Linked DNA regions of Homo sapiens: all the other regions are linked to region 2. Evidence: fine-mapped expression QTL. A gene starts in region 2. Each other region holds a variant in brackets. All regions are shown on one strand. Distances are between the middles of the regions.

What was found. PIP is the estimated chance that this variant, and not a neighbour inherited with it, causes the effect. A credible set is the group of variants that fine-mapping cannot tell apart.
Region 1: its variant is the best candidate, but not a certain one, in a credible set for the expression of ANO6 in whole blood (INTERVAL, PIP 0.54).
Region 3: its variant is the best candidate, but not a certain one, in a credible set for the expression of ANO6 in skeletal muscle (GTEx, PIP 0.72).

The regions. Positions count from the first base shown.
Region 1 is chr12:44,920,103-44,922,867 of GRCh38, forward strand. It overlaps a transcript of NELL2 not described here. Among named protein-coding and RNA genes, the nearest start is that of NELL2, 45 kb to the left of the region's middle. The variant G/T (reference allele first, on the strand shown) is at 1,098.
Region 2 is chr12:45,214,803-45,217,567 of GRCh38, forward strand. It overlaps ANO6 (anoctamin 6), which reads left to right and starts at 1,293. Exons shown (of 20, transcript NM_001025356.3): 1 at 1,293-1,589. The coding sequence starts at 1,520. It also overlaps the pseudogene PLEKHA8P1. RefSeq lists enhancers at 1,059-1,158, 2,169-2,298 and a silencer at 1,619-1,928.
Region 3 is chr12:45,327,983-45,330,747 of GRCh38, forward strand. The region is part of intron 2 of ANO6 (anoctamin 6); the gene reads left to right. Among named protein-coding and RNA genes, the nearest start is that of ANO6, 110 kb to the left of the region's middle. The variant A/G (reference allele first, on the strand shown) is at 1,440.

The DNA of each region.
Region 1 (2,765 bases), 290 kb before region 2:
TTTGGAAGTTATGTAATGTATGTTAATAGAATGAGAAAACAGAAAATAGGGAGAATTTTGAAATATAGAAATAAAGTAGAAGAATAAACGGGGTCAAGAAATGAGAGCACTTTCTTAATAAAATAATGAAATCACAAATGCTAAAGTAGATAAAGAAGATAATGAGATATAAGAAGAGAATCCATTTGGACATATCTTTCAAATTTTAATTCTTTAGAAAGAACTATAAATTGTTATATTTGCATATTTAATCATTACTTTTTAAGCCTTTCAGTTCCTTGAAATTTTTTACTAAAGAATTGTCACTAAAAAGATGTGGAAGAAGATGTTTTGTATTGAATTTGAATATATTATTCACTTAATTACAACCTTCATGTAACAAAGGTTTCCTAATGTAGTCTCATCTAAAATTAATAGATATATACTCAGTGAATCCAAATGTTTAATGAGCTACAAGGTTTATTAACATTCCCATTTTATTTATTTTTAGCTTTATTAAAGCTCATCTACTGCCCACAGGCTTGTGATGCACATATCACATAATAAAAAGGCAAATTAAATTTAAATTCTTAGTGGCAGAATTTCCTACAAGCAAATGAATACCAACATGTCTACAATATTTCAGTACTGCCAGATTTTAAATTGAAGATTAAAGTTTTTATTTGCTTTTAATTAGTCTTATATTTACACAGCAAGAGAGAGAGTACAAACCAGTGCAAATGTTACCAACAAATCCATAAAATGAAATACTTTACATAAAAATGGGTGTAATTTCCACAACTCTGGAGTCTGTCTGTTGCTCAAATGAATACCTCCCTCATTTATTGACTGATGGCTGAAATTATTAGAAATTAATTTCTGTGAAAACACAAATGTTCTTAAGAGAGTAACACTTTAAGCTACTCTCAGTGAAATCATTTGAGATCCTAATCTACGTACACACTTTTATAGTTAGCTGGTAGGGGGCTGAGGAGGGAAGAAAGGAAAAGAGCACCCATGAGAGAGGCTGGAAGCACCCAAACTGACATTTGTCTGCTTCCCTAGATTATTTATATCTATTTGGGATTCTATTTTTTTCAAATGAACGTCTTCTCATT[G/T]AAACCATGACATGGAAGTCAGAGACCTAAACACTAGATAGACTTGTGCAAATCGTGGTCTAATTTCAATTCATTTGCAAGCATTTACTGAGTACCTATTGTGCACAAAATACTAAGCTAGGCTTTACAGAAAATACAAATGTAAGAAAGACACAGTGGCCAGGCTCTCAGACGCTTACAGTCTGGCAGAGGTCTATAACAAGTTCAAAATTCAGTAACTACGTAGGCGGTATAGCAAGATGGGTCAGAGAGTGGGCCCCAAAGTTAGACAGGCAGGCTTGAATTGTGGCTCCAGCTCACATGTAATGTAACCTCTGTGTACCTTGACCCTCAGCTGCACAATGGAAATGAATTGTTATGATGATTAATTGAATTAATACATGTAAAGCACTTAGAACAGTACAAGCAATAAGTATTACGTAAGGGTCATTTGAGAAAACTAAAAACAAAAAAAGTGCTAATGGAGTTCAAAAGACACAAGGTGGTGTTTGATAGGAAAAAATGACTTTCCTAAGATAGCATACAGCAGACAATATTAGTGACCCTCCCACCCTCCACCCCACCTATCATACACAAAAGGACTTCTCTACCTTTTCAGAGAGTACTTCTGCCTTTGTGGAACCTGACAGCTTCAGTTCACATGTGGTTTGTACTGGAACTTATTCTTTCCCTTTTATTTGCTCTTCCTCCCTGGTCACAATGGGAACAACTTGCACTAAAACTGTCATTGTATAACAAAAATATGTCAACGTCCCACACACAGTCTTTGCAAAAATGTCGGGGTGGATTTTTAAGATGCGAGTATCATGAGTATGCTTCCATATTCATTTATTTTTAATACATGAAGAAATTAGTTCTCTTCTGCTAAGGGAATAGAGAACATGAGTTTAATTTGGTCAGATCATAGTCTTGGTTTTTTAGGATGGCATTGATATTGGTGTAGTTAGGATTCAACCAAATAGTCTAAAACAAATCAAAACAATTTATCGTACTTACACAAAGTAAAATGGTAATTTGACACAAAGTCAAATGTTTGTACATTATATAAAACTTACTTAGAAATAAGCCTTTTTAAATACTACAATATATGAATTTTAATATTAACTTCTTAGATTTCCTTTTTCTGAGAGAAATAGGGACAGTTGGTTGAATTTTTAGTTGTGTCCCCTAATATGATATGTTGAAATACTAACCACCTGCACCCCCCACCTCATCCCTGTGAATGTAACCTTATTTGGAAATAGGGTCTTTGCAGATGTAATTAAGTTAAGATGAATCATGCTGGACTAGTGTGGCTCCTGATCAAATGACTGGTATCCTTATAAGAGGAATATTCAACACAGAAATAGACCAGATTAGACACACAGGAAAAAAGGCCATGCAGCGATAGAGGCAGAGAGTGGAGTGATGCAGCTATCAGCCAAGGAATGCCAATGATTGCCAGCAAATACCAAAAGCTAGAAGAAAGAAAGAATTCTTCCCCCAGAGACCTCAGAGGGAGAATAGCCCTGCAGATACCTTGATCTGAGACTTCAAGTCTCCAGAACTGTGACAATAAATTTCTGTTGTTTTAAGCTACCTGATTTGATATACTTTGTTACGGCAGCTCTAGGGAGGTAATACAGTAGGCCAATTCATTCATTTGGCAATACTTATTGAGTCTGCTAT
Region 2 (2,765 bases):
CAAGGATTGCTGGAGGCCAGGAGTTCGAAACCAGCCTGGGCAACATAGTGAGACACCCATCTCTACAAAAAAATTTAAGAATAAGCCCCACATGGTGGTGTGCTCCGCTTGTAGTTCTAGTTACTGAACTCCCACCTCGGCAACAGAGCGAGACCGTCTTAAAAAAAGTATGTGGAAGAAAAAACATGCACAGTAGATTTAGTGTTATTGTGATAACCCTAGCACTTCAGTGGAAAAAATATAAACAATTTCAATGAGTAGACAATAACACATATAACCAAGATTTCAAATATACCTTCTAGCCCTTTTGAGAAGTCAAAATTGAACAACCTGAATGTACCAGCTTTTTTGAAAAAAGTTTTGTAGACACGCGATCCCCAAAACCTGCCGTTCAAACAACTCCAAGGGTCTTTAAAGTACTAAATCCCTTTGTATTTGTCCTATCGGTCCCTTTGGTTTCCAGGAAAGCATTAAAAATAAAAATAAAAACTCTCTGCCTTAATTTTATTTCACGACTTTCTTTTCTCTTATTATAGCTTTCCACATTGCTTTAGAAGAGTTTACATCTAACTCTAGTGGTCTTCGGCTTCTTCTCCCTCTTTGACACAGAGGACTAGTTTCAATTGTACAAATAGGCTGGACGCTTCAGCGATTATCTTCCGACCACTCCCTGTGTGCTCGCGCGGGCGGAGTAGGGGGCGCTTCTCCACTCTCCGCGACCTCAATGTATGCGGAAATCCTCCTGCCTTTGTGCACACGTTTATTTAGAAAATTCTCTCCACCCCCACTCCCGTCCGTCCCGCCCCTTCTTCTTTTGCTTATTCTCTGAGTTTTGCCTCTCCTCCCACCCCGACTCCACCGTAATCTTAACCTACCCGTACAGATTCCACTTTCCCACTTCGGAGCTAGAGTAATTTAAGATCCCCCCATTATTAGCTCCACGTCGCCTTTAAAAGCCATTCAAACGAGTTCGCCTTCCAGGGTTCTGCAGTTGTGCTGCAGCAGCATTTCCCTCCTCTCCAGTATCAGACGTTAAAACAAAGCAAGCCACAGTGTGTGTCCACAGACGACCTTGGAACGAAAAGCTGCCCTGTTTGGGATCAATGCTCAGGGAACCCAGTCCACTCCCGCACTCACGTGTTCCCGCCTTGCCCTCCAGCTAGTTCCCCCGCGCGCAGGATCGCACTACTCCCTCTGCAGTCTCGCCTGCCGACTTCCTTCTGCGCGCCTCGTAAAACCGGGGAAGTTCAATCATTCCGCAGCGAGCCGCGGCGGCCGCACTGGGCATGCTCAGTCTCCGGGCTCCGCTCGGCAGGCGAGAGGCGTCCTCCGGCTCTGGGCTCCGGTCGGTGGGTGCCTCGGCTCGGCTTTCCCCGGCGCTGGCTGGGCTCAGCGGCCCCTGAGCCCAAGCGACACACGCCCCGCGGTCCCCGATCCGGCCCCTGGGAGAGCCGCGCCGTTCTGGAACCCGGGAGCCCCCAACTTCGCGCCAAGTTCGGAGCCGCCTTCTGAGGGAGACATGAAAAAGATGAGCAGGAATGTTTTGCTACAAATGGAGGAGGAGGAGGACGACGACGATGGGGATATCGGTGAGCGAGGGGTCCCCGCGTCCCCACCCGAGAGCCCGAGCCGACGCGGGAAGAAGTTCGGGGACTGCGCGGGGGCGCTGTGCTCTCCGCGGGGGAGGTTGGCCGAGACGCTCGGCCGCTCCGGGCAGGGGAGGAAGCCCGCTGTCCCCGGCTGCTTGCAGACTGAGGCCCCGGTGCGGCCCCTGCGGGGCTGAGGCGCGGGGCGCGTGGTGGCCCCGAGGACAGGCTCCTGACGGGCGGGGGATGCTGCCCCTGAAAAGCCTGGCAGCTGCGGGGACGCCTCTGCGTGCGGAAGTCTCCACTCAGAAGCAACTTTGGGGTCACTTCCCCGACTCGCAGAGTGCTAGGGTTGCCCAGGAGCCTCGGCACTGGGGCGAGCCCCCTGGGCGGGGTCCGGGGAGCAGGCCCGCATTTGGAGGACAGGGTGTGACCCATCTGAATCCTCGTTAAAGTAAAAGCCGACCGACGGCTCTGGGAGGTTTGAGGCCTGGCGGGGCGGCCCCGGGAAGTGATTTGTGGCCGCTAGGCGCGCGCTGGAAACCCTTTCCCATCTGCGGAGCCCACCGGAGCTGTGATCGGAGGAGGAATTCCCCCAGGCAGGGAGGACCGCAGGGCCTTTTTCACTCGTCCTGAGGGGCCCTGGGGCTTGGGGAGCAAACCTGGGGTGACCCATTTCTAGTTAGAGTTAAAAATGCATGGAAGTGACAAGACGAACGGAGGGAGAGCTGTTTTAAGAGCAAAAAAAGAAAAAAAGGGCAAACAAAAGGGATGAGAGGAGGTGAGGAAGGGGAAAGGAATGAGAGGACTAGAGAGAAAATCAGGTCCCTAAAGAGAACACTGTCGGGGGATGATGATATAATGTGTCCCTCCAGAAGACTCTAATTAAATTACCAAGCCAGTCTGTTGTGGCGACTCGGCTTAGTCTCCTGGATGCCAAATCAATTTTAAAGCAGAACATCCTGCTGATGTTCTAAAGCCCTGTTGTTATCTAATAACTTTAAAAGTAACTTAATTTTAGGAGTTGGGTGTGGTTTTTATTTCTGTTACATTTTGGGCACGGAATATTTCGATCAAAAAAATTTGGTAACTTCTTGGTTGTCCAGGGACAAATCGAATAGAGGAGATTACACTCCATGATTTAGTTTCACATTTCATTCATTCATTTAAGAACAATTT
Region 3 (2,765 bases), 110 kb after region 2:
TTGTACAAAAATCATTCTGGGCCATTCCTGAGTACACCTTGATCATCATAGAGTCACAACCAAGGGATGTTCTTGGAACATCCTGACACATTTGACTCTAAAACAGACTTGGAGTCCAAGCTTCAGGATGCATTTTCATCCTTGAATGGGCTCCTTTTCCACTGTGCTTCTTTGCTGTCTGCACATTCCTGAATGCCTGGTCAGGTCAAAAACAAGCTCATTTACTCCCTACAGCACACACCATTTACTGAGCTGACTTCCTGTGTGGCTCCCCTGTGTGTCCAGAGTTACTATGTTACTTCCTTTCCTCCCCACCCCAGCTTCCACAATACTTGTCTTTCCACCTTCGGAAGTCAGCCTTCCATACCTGCAGTTCTTGGCACTTTTTTGGCTCAATTATTACTGTTTTTCTTGAACTTTGTAGTTTGCATTTTGATAAAAATGAAAAAAATTTGATCTAGTGTCTTCTATCTCTGCAATATTTTTGCACCGTTTTGTTGGAAAAAACGTTCTACTTATTACTCATGCCTTGACTCTGATGCCTGAGCTCTGCAACAGTTAGGAAAAACACTTAGGAATATGTGTCATTCATAACTGCATAGCATGTAAATAAAATTTTATTATGTTTCATATTTTGAGAAATCTAAATATTTACGTAAAGGCTTTTGCTTCTAATCTTTTGTTTCCCTAGAACTTGCTATGTACCTGGATTCACAATTTACTGAAAAATAGAAGATTCCATATTTTTACTTTAGTAGTTGTCTATTATTACAGTTTTTTTCCCTTTGTGTTCTTCTTGGAATTAACTACTTTTTCTTGTCTTAAAAATTGTAGAGAGCCCCATGTTTTTTCCATATTTGCACATCAGTTACAATTCAAATTATGTGAATGTTTTGATACTTACTTTTCGTAGTGTAATTCTTCAACTTTATTGTTAGACAGTAAACCTTTCTTGCATCCTGCTAGGCGTAAAGGTTGAGAGACCATTAACCCAAATGAGCCTGGAATACTCTCCAATCTCAGTAAATGACAACCGTGTCAGGGGAGGAATAGGCTATTTGGGAATTCCCATACAGTAAGTCAATCTCACTTGCTGTCCAAGGCAACTTTCAAACACCCTTACACATGAACAAGAATTTGAGCAAAGATCCTAATCTGACTGCTTTTATTCAGATCTTGGACAAATAATTTAACTTCAGCATTTTAACTATCTGTTTTTATTTAGGCCAGTTCCGTTATTTGTTACATATTCTTTCCAGGCTAGTGATATTAGTTTCTCCCTTTTTCCCCATTATGTGGTAGAATGTCTTCTGCCAAGAGATAGGAAACCTGGATTTCACAGCAGTAGAGACTGGCACTCTTTTCTCTAGTATTGCATTCTAATAGTACCATATTGGAGTTTGACCTACTTATTACACACAGGCAAATGTTGCCAAGTC[A/G]GTGAGGTTTTCCTCCAAATAAAGGGCCATGGTCTTGCATCACACATGGGAGGTTTGCATGCAGACCAGATTATCTGGGAGCTAACTGCCAACCTGTGCCACTGTGCAAGGGAAGAGTGCCTGGAGCCATGTACAGATGTGGTTCTCATTCCAGGCCTAATTCTTCAGAACTTAACTTCCGTGAGCTCCTGCTGGACTCCACCAAAGGCAACAGAATGTGGGCTACAGAGAACAAGTTGCTTTTTGTACATTTTTCAGATGTTTGCAATGATGACCAGGTTTTCCTGACTATATTCCACTGGACCCCACTTCCCCTTTGTTCTTCTGAGAAATTATATATATATATTTTTCTCCATGCACAATTTTCCTCTAGCAATAGCCCTGGTTGTCACCCATAGTATAGTCCTCATTGAAAGTAAGAGAAATTGAATGGACCTAAAGGACTCTGTGGCTGAAATGAAAAAGACATGGCTCAGCATTTTCATATAGTTTTAAATACTCTTAAAGTTTATTGATTTGAAATAACTGAAATTGCAAATATAAGAATTGGATAGTGATATCAGCCTAAGACATGGATGTGTCTTTGTTTTCCTAGCCCTTTATTGCCCTGGATAGGAAAGGTCTCATGGCAGTCACGCTGTTTGTGCTTAGAATTCCTGGTTAAATGCACTGGATGAAGGTGCATTGAGATGGGTTACATCAGCAGCATTCATTCTGCTGGTGAAAAAACCTGCCAATTAGGAACTTCAGATACTGGTAATAAACCTTCATGTGTTCCACAGTGGAAAAGGGGAAAGGAATGATAAATATCACGTTTCATATAAGTATCAAAAAATATGTTTTCAAAAGTGAGAAGAAAAGGAGAAAGTGGTGTGTGGTAAAATTGTGTAGCTTCTGTGCTAATCGATAATGAAGAGGAGAATTAATCACATTTAATGAACACAATGTACAAGTTATACAAATGATTGCAAAATGAAATCTTATCAGTTTTTAATGAATCATAGAAAACTTTTCAGTATCACGTAGTTAAAAAGCAGTCGATTCTTAACAAAATTAACATGAGCATTCTGACAAGCTGTGTGAGAACACAAATTCAAATCATTCCTCAGAGTAAATTAGAACAATTCTATCCAACTCCATATGTTCACAGGTATTTTTGTATTTGGTCTCTGTTCTGCCATCATTTCCTTTTAAACCATAAGGATTTTAAGCTCTAAACTAAAGGCTTCTATATTTTGTTGTTGCTGGTTCTTTTGGTTTTTTAAAATTTGTTTGCTAGGAATGAGGGACATCATTTGTAGATTAGGGGACGAACACCAATGACTA